Linked DNA regions of Homo sapiens. The protein of the gene in region 1 binds, or shares a complex with, the protein of each later gene. Each region holds a gene or a part of one and is shown in the gene's direction. Other genes may lie near its edges. The genes, in order: KCNIP1, KCND2 and KCND3.

The links.
Region 2: the proteins of KCNIP1 (region 1) and KCND2 are in contact, whole or in part, in a cryo-EM structure (PDB 7E8E), measured with the Homo sapiens proteins. Residues at the interface, in NP_001030009.1 of Homo sapiens: Thr60, Arg62, Glu63, Val66, Leu67, Arg69, Gly70, Phe71, Asn73, Glu74, Phe85, Ile88, Tyr89, Gln91, Phe92, Tyr101, Leu105, Phe109, Phe122, Leu126, Leu129, Leu130, Lys137, Thr141, Leu144, Tyr145, Val162, Ile165, His185, Phe189; in NP_036413.1 of Homo sapiens: Ala2 (codon at 6,535), Val5 (codon at 6,544), Ala7 (codon at 6,550), Trp8 (codon at 6,553), Pro10 (codon at 6,559), Phe11 (codon at 6,562), Ala12 (codon at 6,565), Arg13 (codon at 6,568), Ala14 (codon at 6,571), Ala15 (codon at 6,574), Ala16 (codon at 6,577), Ile17 (codon at 6,580), Gly18 (codon at 6,583), Trp19 (codon at 6,586), Met20 (codon at 6,589), Pro21 (codon at 6,592), Val22 (codon at 6,595), Ala23 (codon at 6,598), Ser24 (codon at 6,601), Gly25 (codon at 6,604), Met27 (codon at 6,610), Ala29 (codon at 6,616), Pro30 (codon at 6,619), Gln33 (codon at 6,628), Arg35 (codon at 6,634), Lys36 (codon at 6,637), Arg37 (codon at 6,640), Thr38 (codon at 6,643), Gln39 (codon at 6,646), Asp40 (codon at 6,649).
Region 3: the proteins of KCNIP1 (region 1) and KCND3 are in contact, whole or in part, in a crystal structure (PDB 2NZ0), measured with the Homo sapiens proteins. Residues at the interface, in NP_001030009.1 of Homo sapiens: Leu67, Arg69, Gly70, Phe71, Glu74, Val80, Phe85, Ile88, Tyr89, Phe92, Phe93, Tyr101, Leu105, Phe109, Phe122, Ala125, Leu126, Leu129, Leu130, Leu138, Trp140, Thr141, Leu144, Tyr145, Ile161, Val162, Ile165, Tyr166, Met168, Met169; in NP_001365898.1 of Homo sapiens: Ala6, Ala7, Trp8, Leu9, Pro10, Phe11, Ala12, Arg13, Ala14, Ala15, Ala16, Ile17, Gly18, Trp19, Pro21, Val22, Pro26, Met27, Pro28, Leu29, Ala30, Pro31, Lys34, Lys36, Arg37, Asp39, Trp54.

Annotation. Positions count from the first base shown.
Region 1 is NC_000005.10:170,499,549-170,507,065, forward strand, and holds the start of KCNIP1 (A-type potassium channel modulatory protein KCNIP1), read left to right. Parts: upstream 1-4,471; 5' UTR 4,472-5,024; coding exon 5,025-5,085; intron 5,086-7,517. UniProt on the Homo sapiens protein: Regulatory subunit of Kv4/D (Shal)-type voltage-gated rapidly inactivating A-type potassium channels. Regulates channel density, inactivation kinetics and rate of recovery from inactivation in a calcium-dependent and isoform-specific manner.
Region 2 is NC_000007.14:120,268,102-120,276,192, forward strand, and holds the start of KCND2 (A-type voltage-gated potassium channel KCND2), read left to right. Parts: upstream 1-5,073; 5' UTR 5,074-6,531; coding exon 6,532-7,646; intron 7,647-8,091. UniProt on the Homo sapiens protein: Voltage-gated potassium channel that mediates transmembrane potassium transport in excitable membranes, primarily in the brain. Mediates the major part of the dendritic A-type current I(SA) in brain neurons.
Region 3 is NC_000001.11:111,770,162-111,776,668, reverse strand, and holds the end of KCND3 (A-type voltage-gated potassium channel KCND3), read left to right. Parts: intron 1-390; coding exon 391-592; 3' UTR 593-6,007; downstream 6,008-6,507. UniProt on the Homo sapiens protein: Pore-forming (alpha) subunit of voltage-gated A-type potassium channels that mediates transmembrane potassium transport in excitable membranes, in brain and heart. In cardiomyocytes, may generate the transient outward potassium current I(To).

The DNA of each region.
Region 1 (7,517 bases):
GTTTGAACCCAATTCTAGCAGCCTCCCAAATTAATGCTCTCAATCTGACTCTATGCTACCTCTGTGCCTGGAAGGAACTACTGTTGTCCATAAGGATGAGAAGAAACATGGCTAAGGGAGCACTGAGTAGGGAGGAAGGAGGCAGCAGGGAGGAAGAAATAAATTAAGAAAGAAAGAGATACAAAGAGGAAGAAAGGAGAGGGGGAGGGAGGGAAAGAACAGGGCTTGTGTGTTACATAAACTCAGACAAGCACATGCATGTTTTAACAGGATTCCTGCAGGTCTGACAATCTCACTCCTTCCTCCCTGAACAACCTTAGAGGGGTTGCCTAAGGAGTCCTATATAGAGGCTTATGGCAGAAGGAAGGCCTTGCGTCCAGAACTTTCTGAGCTCATGGATTGACACTGGGGTTGCGCATCAGTCTGCTTGGAATGCCTTCAAAAAATACCCCAGTCTGGGTGGCTTATACAACAGAAATCTATTTTCTCATGGTTCTGAAAACTGGAAGTCCAAGATCAAGGTGCCAGCAGGGTTGGTGTCTGGTGAGGCCTCTCACCTTGTGTTGCAACTGCCTTTTCCCTGTGTGCTCACATGGTATCTTTGTGCGTGGGGGGTCTTTGGAGTCTCTCCTTGTAAGGACACTAACTCTATCAGATCAGGGCCCCACCCTTATGACCTCTTTTAACCTTCATTAGTTCCTTAGAGGTCCCTTCTTCAAATACAGCCATACAGGGGCTTAGAGCTTCAACACAGGGATTTTGGAGGGACACAAACATTCAGTCCACACCGGGGTGCATGAGGGAGGGGTCAGAGCTGGAGAAAGTGCATGAGCTAGTTCACCTTCCAGAGTAAAGGGAGCAACAGCCACTGAAGCTCAGGTTGGATGGGGCTGGCAAGGTCGCTGTATTGAGTACATCATGGGAGGGACAACAGGACAAATGGCTCCTGCAGTCAGGGTGACTGATGGGAGGCTTCTTCAGCACTCCCTCTGCACATTCATTTTGTCACTCCCTCTCTCCCCATGCAGTTCTTTGCTCTCTGTTGCAAGTTCCCAGGAGGCAGGCAGAGGGCCTGTTATCATCATCTTTCTCTCTTGCCCCTCACACTTACCTGTGTTCTTCTACTTAGACACATTCTTTGTGAGCATCTCATGGGTGATGTTGGCTGCATTGTACAGTGGGCACGTGCGTATGTGTGTGTATTTATCTGCAAATAATACCCATGTCACAAGGCGTCCGCAGGAATAAATGAGCTATTGTGCATGTAAATATCTGGTACATGGTAGATACATGAATGAATGAATATTTGTTGAATAAATAAGTGAATGAATGAATCTTCACTTGGCAGAGCATGTGTCTTCCTTTAAGGGGCAAGGATGATCTGGTAATCATCAGTTTCTGCTTACTAACTGGGTCACTGAGCAAAGAAAAGAGACTCACTCATTCATTTATTCAGCATAGGTTGGCTGCACCCCTGTCAGAAACCGGAGGTTAAGCAGAAAGTAGAGAGTTAAATCAGTATGTAAAGCAGTTAAAACAGTCCAGAGGGAGAGACAGGCAAGGAAAGGAACAATGAGAAACAAAGTAAGGAGTGCTCTGATAAGAAGCCCTGGGTGCTATGGAAACCACAAGCAGGGCACCGACTCAGGGCCAGGGAGGGATCCCTGGAGGAGATGACATCTGCAGTAGATATTCCAGGGTAAGCAGCAGGTGGCCAGAAGGAGAAAGAGGTGAGGAACATTCCAGGCAAGGGGAACAGCACGTGCAAAGGCCCTGAAGGAGAACCACAACACGCATCTGAGAAATAGTGAGGGGTCTGGGTGGCTGAGCCACAAAGGGAACACCAGGGGTCAGGGAGGATTTGTAGAAGAAGCCACAGGCCACAAAAAAGACCTCATAATTCATGTTCAATGGTTTGGATTTTATTTTGGTGACTTCACTTTATACCTACTGTTCAGAGGCAGCCAATTGCAAACACGTCCAGAAGCACTTTGCTATTTCTGATCTGCAAAATGGAGCAAGTCATCTGTACTCTGCTTCTTCAGTGGGTTGTGGGGAAGCAGAAATGAGAGGATGACATTCTAGCCTTTTGTGACCTCTCAAGTGCTGTCCTTATGGTCATTCAGGTACCATGAAAATTAGCAGAGCCCCAAGGGGGAAGTAGCTTGGTGCTCACCCAGTGGTATCCCTGACAAGTTGGCAAAGACACCCAGGGTGGCTTAACTTTCTCCTCAGCAAAGAGCTCTCCTCTGTTCCCTGAATCCTGGATATCCCACTGGGTCCTCTAGTGACCCCAAGCTTCAGCCTCGCATGCCCTCTTCTCGAACAGAGAAGGCAGGAGGGAAGCAGGGACCAGCCCCTGCTCCATCTTCCAGGATTCCAGGCCTCCCTGGCCTGGACAAGCCCTGAGCTGGCAGTTAGGAGAGCAGAGGTTGTGAATCTGGTGGGACCCCCAGCAGGTCTTTCTGGCTCAGTGCCCTCATCTGTGAGCAGGGGTTCCCCAGGAGACCACGACAGAGGCCTGGAACCCAAGTTCTAATCCCACATCCTGGCTGGGCAACTTCAGGCAAATTTCTAACACAAGGTAAGCCTCAATTTCTCTCTGGGGTAATGATCAGGCACCTGCTTAATTCACAGGGGTTTGGTGGGCATCACGTGGACAATGTGGTTGCACAGCAGTGGGCAATGCAAAGGAAAGGAAGTATGTTAGTAAGTGCCCCTCCCCTGTTGCACAAAACAGGACACATGCTGGGATTGCAGAAAAGCAATAAATGCTGCACAGGTGAAGAAAACTATTCAAGGACCCTGGCCAAGTCACAGGCTACCTGTGGCCCTGAGGGGACAGCTCATGGGTTGGCATTAGGGGAAGCAGCTCTCAAGGGGCCTGTATCCTGGGGATTCAACTCTGTGCCTATGTGGCATTGAGCCTGTGTGAATGTGGTGACTGTCATGCTGTTTTGCTGTGTGTGCGTCTGCATGCCTGTGTGTTTGTGTGTCTCTCCACCTTCGTGGGGGGCAACTGTAGGTGTATTATGAGCCTTGGGTCTGTCTGTGTGTACAATAGCAATGTCTGTGCGGACTTAAGGACCTGCGCCCATATGTTTGTGGGACTTTCTGGGCATGCATGCTTGTTTATGAGGCCATACATCCGGGTATTCTGTGAACTGCTAGCATGGTGTGTATCTGTGTGGCAGACAGAAAATGGCTGGGTGGGATTGTAGGGGGCAGCTTGGGCAAAGGATCCTCAGTGTCAATCAAAATGGGTCTCAGTGGGAACCCAAGCAGCTCAGACTTGGGGGAGGGGAAGCTCTTCCTCCACCTTCCAGGGAGCAAACCTTGCAATTCAACACCACAAGGCTTTGAGTCCACAGGCAGGGACGCAAACTTTGCCCATTGGGTGAGACGCCACTCACAGAAGGGAAATGGCTTCCTAAATCTAATCATTGCCCCTTCAAGCACTAACAACCCGTGCCCAGGAGCTGATGGCTAATGAATTATTGAGCTGGAAAGGGAGAAGAGGTAGAACCAAGGAGGAAAGAAACAGAAAAATGAGAGAGCAGGCCGGGTGGGGTGGCTCTCGCCTGTAATCTCAGCACTTTGGGAGGCCAAGGCGGGTGGATCACCTGAGGTCAGGAGTTCAAGCCCAGCCAGCCCAACATGGCGAAACCCCGTCTCTATTAAAAAATACAAAAAAATTTAGCTGGGCCTAGTGGTGGGCGCCTGTAATCCCAGCTACTCCGGAGGCTGAGGCAGGAGAATCGCTTGAATCTGGGAGGCAGAGGTTGCAGTGAGCAGAGATCGCACCACTGCACTCCAGCCTGGGCAACAGAGCGAGACTCCGTCTCAAAAAAAAAAAAAAAAGAAAAAGAAAAATGAGAGTGTAAGGGCCCAGAGGGGCTGAGGGCTCCTTTCTCCTCCCCAACTCCCTGTCACTAGAAGGTGGGCCCTGCCATAGGAGGATTCTGCAGAACCCTCAAGGACCCGCGGAGCAGGACGGCACCTTCTTCCCATGACCACCCATTTGGATGTGTTTTTCACCCCTTTCTGGGTGGGGCAGACTTTCCCCCTCCCCATGAGTTCAGGCAGTGGGTTAAATAAGATTTCCCTTGAAGTCGAATGAAATCACAATGCACCACACACAGGGACACACACACACACACACGCACGCACGCACATCACACACACACACACACACACACACACACACACACACACATACACACACACAGTCTCCCTGGGGCCAATCTACTGCCCCCTGAACCTCACCCATCAGCCAGGTGCCTGGCCCCGGGTCTGTCTCTTAGGGTTACATGCTCCCGGGGCTCCCGCACATACCCCGGCAGATGAGGGTGCGCAGGGGTGAGGGCGCAGGGCTGGGCGTCCCCCGCCCCCACCGTGCAGCCCTCGCCCCCGCCCCGCCCCTCCGTAGTTGCCCGCCCGCCGCCCCCTCCGCCGCCCCCTCCGCCGCTCCGACTCTCGCCCCGAGCGCTGGCAGCAGGCAGCAGGCAGCAGGCGGGCGCGCTGTGGCTCCGCGCCGCGCGGTCCGGGCTCTGTTCATTCATGATTGGTACTCGGCCCTCCGAGACCCAGCCCGAGCGCAGGGAGGGGAGCCGAGTGTGCGGCAGGAGGGGCGGGCGGACGGCGGCTCCCGCACCGCACGCGGCGCTGGCTCGGCAGCCTCGGCCGGGCGGCCGCTCTGGCCCCGTGTCCAGTGCCAGGCAGGCTTCAGGGCACCGTCCTCGGCCCTGGGCGAGGGAACCGCCGGGCCGGGTCCTCGCGCGGGGAAGCGGTTCCGAAGGCTCGCGGGGAGCGGCTAGCCCTGAGTCCCTGCATGTGCGGGGCTGAAGAAGGAAGCCAGAAGCCTCCTAGCCTCGCCTCCACGCTTGCTGAATACCAAGCTGCAGGCGAGCTGCCGGGCGCTTTTCTCTCCTCCAATTCAGAGTAGACAAACCACGGGGATTTCTTTCCAGGGTAGGGGAGGGGCCGGGCCCGGGGTCCCAACTCGCACTCAAGTCTTCGCTGCCATGGGGGCCGTCATGGGCACCTTCTCATCTCTGCAAACCAAACAAAGGCGACCCTCGAAAGGTAAGCCACCTTCTTCCTTTTGTTCCCCTGTCTGGGCTTGGGGGTGCTAGGCGCCGAGGTGGGCTGTGCCACCTGCCTCCCTTAGTCCGGACTCTCCTCTCCACGAGGAGCCCGGACAGGTGCTTGTATCCAAAGGAGAGAGAAATCGGCGGGAGGGCTGGTGTGAACACCCAGAGGAGGGAGCCGGAGTGGACGTCTGCCCCAGCGGCAACTGGACCCCTCTGGGGCACCAGGTGTCGGGACTCTCCTCCTGGGGAAATCTCTGAGAGCCGAAGGAAGCGGCATGTTCACAGGTGGGGGTGACCGGATTCTCTGGTGGAAGTGTGGTGAAGCTCTTCCCATTCCCATGACAGCTGGCGTTTGAGCACTCAGTGAGGGTGCTGCCACACTCCCACACTCCTCCTAGGCGGCTATGCCAGGTGCAGACCTGCGAGTCCCTTCATCAGGAAGAGTGCTCTGTCTGCACCCCCAAAACCTCTGCAAGCCAAAAGGAATCAGCTGCTGCCAGGGGTAAAACTCCCAGGCCTCATGTCCTGGTGGCTCCGGGAGTCAGGAGGAGCAACCGTGAAGGGCTGGCTGCGAGCTGAGCTTACATCAAGGATTAAAAAGCATAATATCGTGGAGTCTCTTCTGCCTGGACGCTGTTCCTTCACCACCTGTCCCCAGCCGAGGCATGGCTGATCTCACCATCCGTGGGAGAGTCCTCAAATGGGTCCAGGTGAAGTTGGAACCAGTGTGTTGGGCCCTGGAGGACAATGCAGGTCTCCTTACCAGCAGTTCAAAAGTTAGTGGTTGGAATAAAGAGACTGGAAGCAGTTAGGAAACGGGAAATGATGGGTTTTGTTTTGTTTAATGTTCAAATGTCACTACGAGTGGTAAGATTTTAAGCAGCTTGACACTTAAACATTCAAATTCTACCATCAGAGCCCCCATCCTGGATACAGGTGGGAGTTAAGCTCCTACCCTACAGGCCTGATAGTGAGTAGAAGTGTAATGGGGTAAGGGACCCCAAGTGAACAATAAGTCTCCTCTTAGAACTTGGTTGGTCTCACCCTGTTTAGAACCACAGAGATCTCCATAAGTAAGCTGTCCTTGAAACCCCCTGGAAGAAGGGGTCCCAGCTTCTGGCCCAGCTCCCAGGGGCATCAGGCTGGCTGAGCCCCGAGGAAAGAGATCTCTGGGTGCAGATCTTAGGTGCTGAAGCTGGGTTGGCATTTACATCCTAGAACATAGGAAGAGGCTTTGGCCCATTTGTCCAGCTGAGTTACATGTCCTGCTGGCAAGGAAGGGACTGGTTGTCCTGTTACCAGTCCTGACCAGAACAGGTCTGCAAAGCTCAGCCCAAGGCCTTGACATTCTAAGCCTCACCTCTCACAGATCCTGGGATGCTGCTTGACTGGGGACAATTTTCAGCGCCAAATATAGGTCTTCTCCCTCATCATCTGTCTGACCACCATGCGGTCTCAGAGGCCAGGGGACTGTGGGGACAGGAAAGTCAGGGGCTTGTTTTTAAATATTTTCAATGCCTGTGGCTCTCCTGGGAGCTGGGTGTCACAGAAAGATCTCAAGCCCTAGAGTCAAGTGGAGTCTGGGTGTGAATCCCAGCTCCATCACTCCCTGCCTCTGGGACCTTAGGAAAGTCCCCCGCACCTCCCTAAGCCTCAGTTTTTCATCCATGAAATTCGTATGCTACTTCCCGGAGGGAAGGGTATGTAGGAAGTAGAGGAAGGGAAGACTCTGCCTCATATACTGTGTTGGCTGCAGCCACCAGGGACCCAGAGGAAGTTGTTGTAAGGATGTGAGAATCAAATGAATGATGAATAGGGAGCTCCGTGCATAGGGCTGGGAAAAGAGTAAGAGCTCAGACATTGCTGTCTACCATTTCCTTCTCCTGCCCCAAACATCCAGGAATTCACCCTGGATGAATTCCTGCAGGATTCCCAGAGTACAAAGGTCTTTGCTTCTGTCTCCTCGGATTCTAAGAAACAGAAGAGGGGGTACTGGCATTCAGTGTGTCCCTACTGTGTGCTTGCCATAATGCTCGGTGTTTTATCAACAACTCTCATTTAACCCTCACAACAATGTTCGTTTGAGGCTCATAGCAGGTTCGGGGCCAATGGGTGGACTCCCAAGACAAGCTATCGAAGCACTGGGCACTCAGCCCTTCCTGCACAAAGCCCACTGGCGTGAGTTGTCCAGGGGTCCAGCTGCATATGTTCCCCCAGGTATTTGCCCCCGAAGCACAGTCATCTCACTGCCTTGCATAGTGGAATGCTAATCAGCAGAAGACCCTTCTATGGGAGGCAGCTTGGAAACCTGGAGGAAGCCCTGGCTGAGGAGGCTAGTGGTCAGGGAGCCTATCCTGGCCAGGTCACTTTTCCCCACTGGGGCCTCGGTTTCTTCTTTGTAAAGGGAGAAACTTACATTAGGCA
Region 2 (8,091 bases), on another chromosome or scaffold:
CTATTATTTCTCACAACTGCATGTGAATTTATAATTATCTCAAAATAGGTTTTTTGTTTGTTTTAATTCACTCTAGGTGCAGTGTAAGGATAGATAGATGGTAATGAGGGTGGAATATATAAGACCTATTGGGTCATTGGCTATGTCTGGGTGTTTGCTGGGGGGCAAGTAGTAAAGAACAGGATGACCACCAGGTTTCTTTGTGGGACTTCACTGATCAAAAGAGAAAAGAGGGAGTAGATGATTGGAAGAGAGAGATGATGCATTCAAGGTTGATCCTGCTGAGTTTGTTTTCCTTGTAATCAACCAAACAGAGTATATAAAATGAGAAGAGTAAAGAATAAGAATCCCTAAGCAAGGGAGATATATACCGTGCTCTTCGAGAATTTGTATGCCTACTTTTCACATAGCATTTCAATGCATGAATGAAGACTAAAATATCACTATCATCTGAATATCAGAACAAGGGGATTTTTGAATTCGGAGGGAAGAGTAAATACAGACAGACATATAGCAAATAACGACATTTCAGTCAATGATGGATCACATATACACAGTGGTTCCATAAGATTATAATGGACTATTGTGAATGGAATTGCATTCTTGATTTGACTCTCAGCTTGGATGTTAGTGATGTGTAGAAATGCTACTAACTTTTGTACATTGATTTTGTATCCTGAAACTTTGCTGAAGTTGTTCACAGAGACAGGAGCATTTGGGCAGACTATGGGGTTTTCTAGGTATGAAATCATATAGTTTTCAAAGAGAAGTAGTTTAATTTCCTCTCTTTCTATTTAGATCCCTTTTATTTCTTTCTCTTGCTTGATTGCCATGATCACTGTGGAAAGCAGTCTGGAGATTCTCAAAGAATTTCAAATAGAACTACCATTCAACCCAGCAATCTCATTACTGGATACATATCCAAAGGAATAGAAATTGTTCTGCCCTAGAGACACTCGCACATGTACGTTCATCACAGCACTATTCATAATATCAAAGACATGACACCAACCTAGATGCCCATCAACAGTGGACTAGATAAAGTAAATGTAGCACATACATAGTATGGAATATTGTGCAGCCAATAAAAAAAACAAATCATGTCCTTTGCAGCCACATGGATGGAGCTGGAGACCACTATCCTAAGTGAATTAACATAGAAACAGAAAAACAAATATCACATGTTCTCCCTGCTAAGTGGGAGCTAAACATTGAGCACATATGAACACGAAGAAGGAAACAGTGGACACCGGGGCTTACTTGAGGGTGGAGGGTAGAAGGAGGGGACTATTGAGTATTATGCTGATTACCTGCATGACAAAATTATCTGCACACCAAACCCCTAAAGCACGCAATTTACCCATGTAACAAAACTGCACATGGACCCCTTGAACCTAAAATAAAAGTTGGAAAGGAAAAAAACAAAAAGATTATAAGGGAGTTGAAAAATTCCTACTGCCTAGGGATGCGCAGCCATTGTAATGTCCTTGCCTAATGCGTTACTCAGGTGTCTGTGAGGATGCTGCTGTGCTGCCAGTCTTGCACAAGTACAGCACATACAATTATGTACAATATATAATACTTGATCATGATAATAAACGATGTTACTGGTTTATATATTTAGTATACTATACTTTTAATCATTATTTTTTAGTGTACTCCTTCTACTTATAAAAGAAAGCTAACTGTAAAACAGCCTGAAGCAGGCTCTTTCAAGAGGTATTCCAGAAGAAGGCATTGGTATGCCTTGGTATTCCATGCATGTTACTGTCCCTGAAGACAGAATGAAGAACGTTCAGTAGGAAAAGATGTGGATATGGAAAACAGTAATACTGATAATCCTGCCCCTGTGTAGGTCTGTGCCAGTGTAATTGTGTCCTAGCTTTTAACAAAACATTCAAAAAGTTTTTAAAAAGTGCAAAAATACCCAGCACTTTGGGAGGCCGAGGAGGGTGGATCACAAGGTCTAGATCAAGACCATCCTTGCTAGCACGATGAAACCCCGTCTCTACTAAAAATACAAAAAATTAGCCAGGCGTGGTGGCAGGTGCTTGTAGTCCCAGCTACTCGGGAGGCTGTGGCAGGAGAAGGGCGTGAAACCGGGAGGCAGAGCTTGCAGTGAGCTGAGATCGCACCACTGCAGTCCAGCCTGGGCGACACTCTGTCTCAAAACAAAACAAAACAAAAAAAGTACAAAAATAGAAGAAAACTTACAGAATAAGGATATAAAGAAAATATTTTTTTGTACAGCTGTATAATGTGTTGTGTTTCAAGCTAAGTGTTATTACAAAAGAGTCAAAAAGTTAAAAATTGAAGTTTTTAAAGTAAAAAAAGATAGTAAGCTAAGGTTAATTTATTATTGAAGGAAAAATAAGATTTTAAAAATAAATTTAGCATAGCCTAAATATACAGTGTTTATAAAGTCTACAGAAGTGTACAGTAATGTGCTATGCCTTCACATTCATTCACCACTTACTCACTGATCACCCAGAGAAACTTCCAGTTCTGTAAGCTCCATTCATAGGAAGTGCCAAATAAAGGTGTACCGTTCTTAAAAATATTTTATACTGTATTTTTACTGCAACTTTTCTGTGTATATATATGTTTAGAGGTTCAAATACTTGCCACTGTGTTACAAATTGCTTACAGTGTTCAGTACAGTAACATGATGGCAGGTTTGTAGTCTAGGAGCAATAGGCTGTACCATATAGCATAGGTGTGTAGTAGGCTATACCACCTAAGTTTGTGTAAGTACGCTCTATGATATTCAGACAGTGATGAAATCTCCTAAAGACACATTTCTCAGAATGTATCCCTGTCATTAAGCAATACATAACTATGGAAAGTATCTAAGGGAATTCCAAATACGGGCTGGATAAAATGAATTGCATTAGCATTATGCATTACAATAAAAAAGAACCAATATTGAGTACACTTCATGTGCTAAGTATTTCACTGGTGTTCAGAAGTATGATCCTGTTTCATCTTCACGACAGGCCTGAAAAGTTAAATTTCATTATCTATAATTTCTAATCATAGAAGTAATTTGCCAAATGAAACAAAGCCAGTAAGTAATTTCTTAAGCAAGATTTTGAATTTAGATGTGTTTAAGTTCTCAGCCCACATTCTTTCCACTATATCAAGAAGCTTGTTGAAGATGCAGGAGGGCAGATCCCAGTACCTTCTTAAAAACTGTACATATTATGTTCTTGCTTCTTTGGGGCTTTTGTGAGTTAAGCTCCTACTTTTACATTTGTAAGCATTCAGTTTCCCACACAGTTTTAAAGGCTCTATTTAGGTTCCTCGCCCCATCTTTACAGGAAAGCATGCCATTATTGGCATTGATTAAATATTCATGGCGCTCCACCCTCTGGATTCCATGCCCAGCACCTGTCATAGTGCCACCTTACTGTTTGGACTAACGAGGGGTTGGTTTTCTTATATTAATTGGTAGTAAGCCCCTCATTTCCATTTTCCAGGTAACATGCTTGTGTGTTTGTTTTCAGGTATGCAGGCTATATAGATTGGTTAACAAGCATCTTTCACTTAAACAAATAGATAAAGAGCAGGTGTCTTCAGTTCCTTGTCCTCAAACTTAAATGGTGCATTAGCTCTGACTTCATTACTACTGACACAGGATTCCTTAAATCTCTATTCTGTAAACAAATAAACAAACAAAAAATACCCTTTTATCTCTACAGAAAATCCTGTACATGATAAGGATATTTTAAATTCTCTGGTTATTTTCTATACTCATTTTTTAGTTTATATATTTTCTTTGACGTATCCCATTTCAAATTTTCAAGGTTGACACATCATGCCTGTAATCTCTAGGGCTTAAAAGTCAATTTCCGTAAAGTACAACACACAGTCCACTTATTTTACAAACCAAGGGCAGTCAAACCAAGCCATGAAAAGTAATTTTTAGGTAGAAATTAGGCTACTATTCTTCATCAATACAGATGAAGCCTCATTATTGCCAAAGATCTTAATTACTATGATGATGATGATTCAGTAATCTAGATTTAATTTTCAAAGGAATTTCAAAAGGAAACTCTCCACATCTCATCCCACAACTATCCAAATGCAGACTCAAGCCTAAGTAGTATATGTCACATAAACACAAAAAAGGTGGGTGGCAGCGAAGGGGTTTGGGGATGTTTATGTGATCTGACTCTCTGTTGGACCAGTTAATTTTGATCCTTCACCTTCCTAAAGCATCCAAACCTTAGGTGCAGATTTAACTTCTCGCCATCCACGCCATCTAGTGGCTTGTATGTGTTACGTTTGGTTTTAAGGATGATTCCTAATGACTCGGGGGCGGGGTACGCGAAAAACAAAAAGGTTGGTAGCGACAATTTTCCTGTGTCTCTCTACCTCAGTAACCCCTCATACGAACACCTTTAACTCTTTTAACTATTTTAAATATGCGCAGTGATGCGCAGAGAGGATGAAGGGGACGCAAACTTTCAGAGACGCACGCCCCTTGACGATGACATTTAGAAAAGGGCTCCACATCCCTGTTATTCGTAAAGGACGGGAAAAGGAGTTGTGTCAAGACCTCGATCGAGGAGAGTCTCTGATTTTTTGGCAAGTTGGACAGATGGCATATCAATCCCTGCAACGTTAACAATCTGGTTTTGAAAATAAATAAAAACAGAAAGAGGAAATGCACTTAAAAATTCCGCGTCGGAGCTTTGCGGGTCTTGCCTTCCAGTCGCCCCCAGAAGACAACCAATTCCTGCGCATTCCGCTCCGCTCACCCTCCTTCCCAGCTTCTCTCGCTCTCTTTCCCCCCATTTTCCCACGCTCGCCTTGAACCGGGACTCGAGAGGCAGAAGCAAGGCACGGGTCCCCTTTCTCCTCTCCTCCACCAAACCACCGCAGCCCAGCACGTGAAGCTTCCCTTTGTTCATCCGAGGCTCGCTTTTCTCCCCAGCAGATCCACCTGGATGCTCTCCCTCGGTGACATTTTGCGCCGGGGTTGGTGGGTGGCTGGGGTGGAGCGAGAGGAGCCCGAGGGGGCGGGGGCGGAGAAAGGTCAAGCCGAGGGAAAGGCAGGAGACGCCTTTCCTAACCTGCGTGGCGGGGCGTGCGCGCGGTTATTTATTTATTTTCTCCTTATTTATTGATCGCACTAGCAGAGCAGCGCGGGGAGCCCGGGGAGATGCAGGACCACCCACTGGCGGGGAAGCAGCTAGCAGCCCTCCCGCGCCCCCGCGCTGCCGAGCGCCTTCTGCCTCCGCGCTCGGACGAGAGCCCGTGCCGGCCCCGGCCCCGGCCCCACCGCGCCAACGCCGCCCGCCCGGCCGCCCCGCAGCCCCGCCGCCCCGCAGCCCCGCACCGCGCTGGCCAGGCTCCCGCGACAGTGGCCCCGCAGTAAGTTGGCAGGAGCGAGTCCCCTCCGTTCTCGCCTCCCCCGCACCTTTTGAACTTGTTGCTGCTGCTCTGCTCGCCTGCGCCTGGCTTTTGGAAGGTGAAAAGGAGGAGGGAGGCACGGAGGGATGGGGGAAGGGAAAGAAGAGCTCGCTTGAGCTTTATTTATGCTCTCTCGGCGCATCGGATTCGGCTGCTCGCGAGCTGCTTTCTCTCCTCTTCCCTTTCCGGGTGCACGGCGAGGAGAAAGTCTCTATGCAACTAAGCCCCGGCGCGCACTTGGCCAGGTATGTACCGCGGGAGCGGCGCGTTCTGCGCGGAAGCAGATGCTGCTGCCGCCACGGCGGCGGCGGCTGCCAGCTCCTGAGCTCTGTAACTGTCACACTGCACCTGAGCTGAACTTGAAAAGAGAGTGAAGGGGCGATTGGGCGAACGCTTTTGGCAGACACAGAGGGTGTTTGTAGACGTGGGGGAGGAGAATCTCTATTAACGCCCCCCACCGTAACCACTGCACATCACCTCCATCTCTGCAAATACAGCCCGAGGAGTAGAGGCAGCAGCAGCTGGACCCCCAAAGAGAGACGTGGGGCAGCGGCTGTGACCGCATCTCCTGAGCTACAACAACAGGTCGCCTTTTTGAGACTCCTTTGGCGGGAAGGGCTACTTGGAAAGGAAGGTTTGAAAGAGTGAGAAGGGTAGGTGTAAGGGTTCCCTAATTCGTCGAAAGAATTCTATTGGGTGACTCTCGTTCGTCTTCTCTATCCTACACTCCACATACTGACCCTATATTATCCAGACTGTGCCGGGGAGAAATCAAAAACACCTGTTTGAAGAAACGGCTGCACCTGTGTGCTTATTTGTGCCAGAGGGTGGCCTAGCCCACCTGCAGGAAGAGATTTGGCTGGGTTCTGTTGAGGGTGATTGTTAGGACGTTGTATTTTGTTGCCATTATTCCAAATACCTGTCTTGGAGGGAAAGTTGCCCTTCTGAGAACTGTGACTTTACCAGGAGCCCTATCTTGGAATAAGAGTTACACCTCTGGACCACGTTTCTCACTAGTACTTTGCTTGACTGGAGGAAGTGGGTGACTTTTGGCTGCTTCGGTGACCCATTGTAGACGCCTCGTTACCCTTCTTCCTTCCGCTTCAAGTAATCATGGCGGCGGGGGTGGCAGCGTGGCTGCCTTTTGCAAGGGCAGCGGCTATCGGGTGGATGCCTGTGGCCTCGGGGCCTATGCCGGCTCCCCCGAGGCAGGAGAGGAAAAGGACCCAAGATGCTCTCATTGTGCTGAATGTGAGTGGCACCCGCTTCCAGACGTGGCAGGACACCCTGGAACGTTACCCAGACACTCTACTGGGCAGTTCTGAGAGGGACTTTTTCTACCACCCAGAAACTCAGCAGTATTTCTTTGACCGTGACCCAGACATCTTCCGCCACATCCTGAATTTCTACCGCACTGGGAAGCTCCACTATCCTCGCCACGAGTGCATCTCTGCTTACGATGAAGAACTGGCCTTCTTTGGCCTCATCCCGGAAATCATCGGCGACTGCTGTTATGAGGAGTACAAGGATCGCAGGCGAGAGAACGCCGAGCGCCTGCAGGACGACGCGGATACCGACACCGCTGGGGAGAGCGCCTTGCCCACCATGACTGCAAGGCAGAGGGTCTGGAGGGCCTTCGAGAACCCCCACACCAGCACGATGGCCCTGGTGTTCTACTATGTCACGGGGTTTTTCATTGCCGTCTCTGTCATCGCGAATGTGGTGGAAACAGTGCCGTGCGGATCAAGCCCAGGTCACATTAAAGAACTGCCCTGTGGAGAGCGGTATGCTGTGGCCTTCTTCTGCTTGGACACGGCCTGCGTCATGATCTTCACAGTTGAGTATTTGCTTCGCCTGGCTGCAGCGCCTAGTCGTTACCGTTTTGTGCGTAGTGTCATGAGTATCATCGACGTGGTGGCCATCCTGCCTTATTACATTGGGCTGGTGATGACAGACAATGAGGACGTCAGCGGAGCCTTTGTCACACTCCGAGTCTTCCGGGTCTTCAGGATCTTTAAGTTTTCCCGCCACTCTCAAGGCCTGCGCATCCTGGGGTACACACTGAAGAGTTGTGCCTCAGAATTGGGCTTCTTGCTTTTCTCGCTCACCATGGCTATCATCATCTTCGCTACAGTTATGTTCTACGCAGAGAAGGGGTCTTCGGCTAGCAAGTTCACCAGCATCCCTGCAGCCTTCTGGTATACCATCGTCACCATGACAACACTAGGGTAGGTGCCATAATGGGAAATGGGATGGAGGTTGGGTATGGGTGAGGCGATTGTGGACCCATCGAGGTTACATGGTAACTCCGGGGAAATCATTTGTTTTCTTTCCTGAGTTTAGGAAAGCATTATCTAAATGGTTTGGCAAAACTCTTTTCATCTGTGAAATGGGTATAATACACACGTTGAAGTATTAAGGCATTGCTGGCAAATGTTGATGCCTGAAAGTGATAAAGATACAAAGAAATTTTAGAATTCCTGAATATATGAAAGTAGTAGCAATATTTATATTAATATATAAAAATATGACAATGAAAAACAAAATCTATGCCCTAATAAAGACACAAATATATACAATGTATATTGAAATGTCTATAAAGTGGTTCAATGCATTTAAATGAAAAGTTTCCAGGTATACTTGAACTATTATTTTCATATGAATAGATACTTA
Region 3 (6,507 bases), on another chromosome or scaffold:
CTCATGGCTTATCCTAGGCTGATTTGAATCCCAGAGACTGACTTTTCCCTCCCCCTCTGCTTATATTTAGGCCACTTCCCACTACCTCCAAATGCGTTGCAGAGAATTCAGGGAATGCAAATGCCAAATGCCACAAATGATAGATATACAATCACTGGTGGGGGTGATGTACATTCTGCAATTCAAAGCCTACTATATACAACTTGGTAATTTCTGGTAGTTTGGGAATAATAATTAGAATGGATAATTACAAGTTGATTACAAAAGGCAGAGATAGAGGCACAACAAAATATCCTCCTAGTTACCACGAGCAAGAAATGTAGGGGGTCAAGGAAGCTTTGGGACGCTGGCCAGCAGGAACCATCATCAACTCACTCTTTTCTATCCCAGTCGCTCCAGCCTTAATTTGAAAGCAGACGACGGACTGAGACCAAACTGCAAAACATCCCAGATCACCACAGCCATCATCAGCATCCCCACTCCCCCAGCGCTAACCCCAGAGGGGGAAAGTCGGCCACCCCCTGCCAGCCCAGGCCCCAACACGAACATTCCTTCCATAGCCAGCAATGTTGTCAAGGTCTCCGCCTTGTAAAACCACTGGACAGAGGGCCAGAGTGGGTAGTGGGGAATGAAGGGGACTGGCATGTTGGTGGGTGGTCACTGAGACCACTCCCTCCCCCCTTTCCCCACTATTTCTGCCTGCCCCATTGTACCCCTAGCACTGAGACTTGTGCCTGGAAGGAAAAAGAGGTAGCAAAGGGGCACCTGAGGTTCACGCTGCTAGCGTGGACATAGCCCTGTGATACTGCATCTCACTGGGGCCAGAGGAAGGGAGGGAGGGTGGGGGGGTCGGGGATAGGCCGGGGGATATAGGCTATGTGCCAGGACAGGGCCTGGATGGAGGAGCCTCAGACTCAGACCAAATAACAGTCGTTTCTGGAGACCCCAGTGAGGAAAATACAAGACCAAGAGCAGCAAAGAGGCCAAGTTGTCACAAGCAAAACAGGAAGAAAATATAACACTGTGTATTTAAGCACCTTTTTCAAGGCTCTTAATGGATAATATTTATTCATGGGAAAAGGTGGAAAACAAAAACACCAACGGATTTTTGTGAAATGTTTTTCTCCATGGACCCAACACCTTTGAACCAAAACAATGCATTTTGTGAGGGATTTTTTTTTCTCCTTTTATAGCAAAAGCTTTTAGGCTAAGAAGTCAGTTATTGCTGAGTTCTCTCTCCATTCCCCCAGGTGGGTGAGGTCAACTGAGCCTGGGCCCCCACTGCCCAGCTGACCTGTGCAGAGCTGCCAAGTGACCACACGGCAATCCTTACCCTTTGTCTGTCCCTGTCTCCCTTGTCTCTGTACCTCTCTGCTTACCCCTAGCTGTTTCTGTGTCCAGCCATCTGTCTCTACCTGGATCCCAATGATCCTGAAACACATCAGTAAAGCCTTCTTCATCACTGCCACGCACAACAGACTTGTGCCTGGGAGTTCTATCTGTGTGAATGCAACTGCAGAGGAGGAAAGAGTGAAGCAAAAATTGGGAGAGTTTAGGGGTAAGGGAAGTCTACCTCACAGAACAGAGGTACTTCCCTTGGGGTTGGAACCACTCGTGTTTGCAGTTTCAGTTTCTGGGAAAGAAAGGGAATGAACAGATTTATCACACTGGAATCTTGAAAAGGCAAATCGCCAACACCTGAGACGCGGTCAACTCTGGTATGTGCCAGTGAGGGGAGAACGGAAGGACCCAGGGCTCGCAGCCTCAGCCGGTCATTAGGGCACCTTGCTATGGACCCTTCCTTCAAGACCCACCATAAAGCCCATCCAGAGCCCTTCCAAGAGGCCCCGGGAGTAGTTTTCTCCAGAGAGGGCAGTGGTACGGGGACCAAGATTCCTCTGACTTATATCAAACCAGAGGCAACTCCCACACAGAGGCTGTGGAAGGGTAAGCCTGTGTGCCTCAAGAAAAATGCTTCAAAGCAAAAGCAAGTAAGAGATTCTAGATGATTCTTACCTGCTATGAAAGATGCCTTGATGTCTGAAGAGGCTTCGGCCTGATCTCCCTGAAGATGCTGAAATGGGGGAGAAGCCTCATCACCTCTGTGCAAGCAAAGGAGTGAAGATTATTTCTTGAACACCTGGACAACATATCTATTCAACTAGCTTGCACCCTGGTGGAGCTGGGGGCAGCATTTCTGGAATCCTCCTAACCATTGTTCACTGCTTGTAGCAGAGTAGGTGGGCCTCAGGGTTAGTGACAAGTCCTTTCCTGCCCTTCCCAACACCCAGCCACCTTGCTGCAGTCTCTGTAGCCTGGGCTCTGAAATACATGAGCTCCTCGGGAGCTGCCTATCCATCCTACAGCTTAGTGGTTAGCTGTTTAATTGTAGGCCAAGAATTTCTCTCCCCACCACAGCCATCTAAATGAGTTTTACTAGCCAGGAACCTAAAAACACCCTTCGTGGGCTTCCCTATGACCCCAGCTCGATTGACCCTGTAGGTTCAAAAGGTTTCGAGGTGGCACCTAACCAGAATGTGGGCAGAAGGCAGAGGAGAGGGAGCCTTCTTTCTGTCTTTATCTCTTTATGCTTATCCTCATTGACCATGGGCTGAGTTCTTTCTCTGGGTCCCCTAATGTGGGAATGGAGTGGTTCTTGCCCTCTGAGCTTACAGACTAAGAAGGCAGAAAAGCTTTACAACTACAGAGTACATGTGTATACACACAACCAACCTAAACACATCAGAGAATACATACTTAAATCAATTCACTTCATATACACATCTCATTAGAAGACCAAGCTAAACTTCACTTAGAGGGCGGGCAAAGGACTAGAAAAGAATTTTTCTCTTAAAAAAAATGAGTACTAGAGCAAAATTATGAGTGTCTAAGTATCTTAGTTATGCTTCATAAGATCTGACTGGGGTAAGAGATAAAGAGGTAAATAGGGCTGGGCGCGGTGGCTCACATCTGTAATCCCAGCACTTTGGGAAGCCGAGGTGAACAGATCACCTGAAGTCAGGAGTTGAAGACCAACTTGGCCAACATGGTGAAACCCCATCTCTACTAAAAATACAAAAATTAGCCAGGCATGGTGGTGGACCCCTGTAATCCCAGCTACTTGGAAGGCTGAGGGGGAGGATTGCTTAAACCCAGGAGGCAGAGGTTGCAGTGAGCCGTGATTGCACCACTGCACTCCAGCCCAGGTGACACAGCAAGACTCCGTCTCAAAAAAAAAAAAAAGAAAAGAAAAAAAAAAAGGAGGTAAATTAGAACTGGTTGCACACACATACAAACTTCCTGTGATGAATTTAAGAACAGATCATTACAGGGTTAGAATAGTGACAGATTCAACAAAGGATCTGTTTGATAGGGCACCAAGGGAACATTTTACTGGTTCCCACAAAAATTAATAAATGTTAAATATCATGTCCCAAGCAATTTCCCATGTTTTTTTATTGGTCCTAATCAACAGAATGTTTTGTGTTCCTTCCACTTCACGTTCAGAGCCCACGTCATGCCACTTCCTAAAAGACCATTAGACCATCCCCTTTTCCTCCATCCTCCACTGTAGCCTTAGCCAGAGAAAAGATCCAGCTCACTTCTGGTCCAAAAAATGTCAACGTTTGGAAAATGGCTCATCTACACTACAGAACACAGCCAGATGACACTGCTAAAGGGTACTGTAAGAAAACACAAGGTCCAAAGTATGCTGAATTGGTTTCATAAGTCTAACTCATTGGCCAGTGACTGAAAAACCAGGATATCAGGATTTTCTGGGGGCCAATAGCCATGACCCTTGAGCTTTCATAGTTCATGAACCACTTTGACATAATAAAATATTCCCAAAACCACCTATTCCATTCAGTCCCACTCAGCATTAAGAGGGGGAGGGAAAAACAAACCAACCAACCAACCTAACAGTTACATTCAAATGTCAAATGAATGTGAACCTAGAAAATGTAGTATTAAGAGCATATCAGAACTAGAAAAGATTTAAGAATATCTAATTCATTTTACAGTATAGAAAACTGAGACCCAGAGAAATTAAATGACTTGTTCAAGGTCATGCAGTTATTTAATGACAGATCTGAGACCAGAACACGAGTCTTTTGGCTATTAGTCTAATGCATTTTCTACCACACCCACTGCCTCTGAGAGCAGTGATGCTTTGGAGAAGATCCATCAAAGAATCCATACTGTAATTGGAGACATAGTCTTATATGTCAATACGTATATGTCAATACTACTTGGACACAGCCCTTGGAAATCACCTGACTGTACCAATACAAACCATACTTTGGAAACCACCATTCTCTGGGTAGAAACATCTATGGACTATCAATTTTGTCAGAAATCAGTGAACAAGTGAAGAGTCAATTTTTTTTAGTCAAATATTTTCTCTTCTCAATGAAGAGAAGACTAGGACAGTGACATTTTGAAGCATACCTTTTATACTCCTTGTGGTTCTTATGACAGTCTGTGATGGTAGTAGGTAAAGTAGCTAAATCCTTGATTCAGAGAGGGGAAAACATGTGGAAAGAAACTGAACGACTTATCCAAGTTCACATGACAAGTTAGTGGCAGAACCATTATTGCAATCCAGGACTTAAGACATCTTGTCCTAGGATTTTTCCTCCACATTATATTGCACTGCTCTGAGGCTTGCTTATATTTTTCATACCTGGATTTCCAGGGTGGTGACGTGGGGGAGGGAAGTATTCAATTCAGAACCACCGTGAACCAAGATCTCTGGAAACAAACTCTGTACTATTTCTCCTTCATCTCCTATTTTCATAACTAGTGCCAAGCTCAGGACTAACTGCATAGACTCCCTTTCAAAAGACCAATAGATATTCTCAGTGACAGTTGAACACATTAGTTTACAATCACACAGAATTTGAACAGAACTTAAAGTTGACAGTTAATGCCGATCTATAATTAACAAAAATGTCAACTTGTGGATATGCTGATGATTTTATCCAGTTTTCAAAATATGATTCCTACAGTTCAGGATATCACTTATTAGATTGTAGACAAGGAAAATGTACATTGGGACATTATGTACTTAAGAGTTTTTCCTTAAGTTTTGCAGAGGAAGTGGTTGAAAATTGAGCTAACACTAGATTTCGAGGTTACTAAAGAATTCCAGTTTTCCAGTCTCCCACTTCAATTACCAGGTAACTATAAGGCAAAAATATCCCAATGCTGTGAACTTAAGGCAATATTCATTTCCTTTCTACACTACTTGGCATGGTAACCATGACAAACTTTTATTTTCTCTTTCTGATTTCCTAATGAAATCTCATTATTTGCAAAGCTTTAAAATGACTAGATGAAGGAAAAACATTGTTATGACCCATGACCCTCGGAGCCCAAACAGCACCATGAAGAGCATCATTAAAACTAAGAGAAAGTGGCTATCAGAAAATGAAACAGCTTTAAAGGGGTTCCTTTTAAGTCTTGTTTTCTATTCAGAATGTTCTGTGTTTTTTCTCAAGTGTGGGAATGACATTTATCTTAGCAGGTTACTCAACTACACTGGATGATGTCACTCTAACCAGTGTACGGCACTGACCCAAGTCCTGGGGGGCTCCTTGGACCAATGGACTATTTTACAAACCTGGGAGGTGGGAGGGATGGTATATTTTTGATAATCAGACATTCCAATGTAATGTTTTCCTTAGAGGTCACACCCTTCCCCCCATTAATGTCATCGTGAGATACATCAAGTGTGTTCTTTTCTATTTTCGTATAATAAATGGGCTTTGCTTATCAACATCACAATGGCAAAGAAGAAATATACTGTACAAAACTGCAGGAAGATAAAACATGAAAACTTTCTATGAAAAAAAAAAAACACCCTTGAGTTTCCTGTCGTCTTCTTTTGAAACTGTAGTGCATATGTTAAAACATGTATATCATTTACAGTATTGAGTCGTGTGCCACTGCTGTACCTGATGTATCCAATCTGGATTAAACAAATTATGTGCCACAAACCCTAAAATGACTGTTTCTTTGAATACTGATTCTCCTTTCCTCCCAAAGGTGCTGGTATATGCTAGAAAATAGAATAATTTGAACACAGATTGGCTTTCTACCTTGCTAGAGAAAACTCACAGAATCTTAGAAGGGTTATTAAAGGCCTAGAGTAATCTTCCCACTCCATCCCTCAATGTAAACATAAACAACTCCTCTATGATATCGCTGATGGTTCTTGCCTGCTTGTATGCTGTATTTGTGGATGTTCGCTAACAGGTAAAGCATTCGATTTTATCTATCAACGGCTCTATTTTGAACACTGACCCCATATTATTGAAAGAAAATCTGACTTTATGTATCAGTACTGGTTTTACTGAGTACCAAGTTCTCAAATTAAAAAGAAAACTCAGAATTAAATGTTCTGTGGGGTATTGTAGAAAGCTTGGGAATCAGATGGTGGAGATTCAAGTTTAGGTTCTAGCACTGAATTGTGACTTCCCATCAGTAACTCCCTCTTGGCTTCAG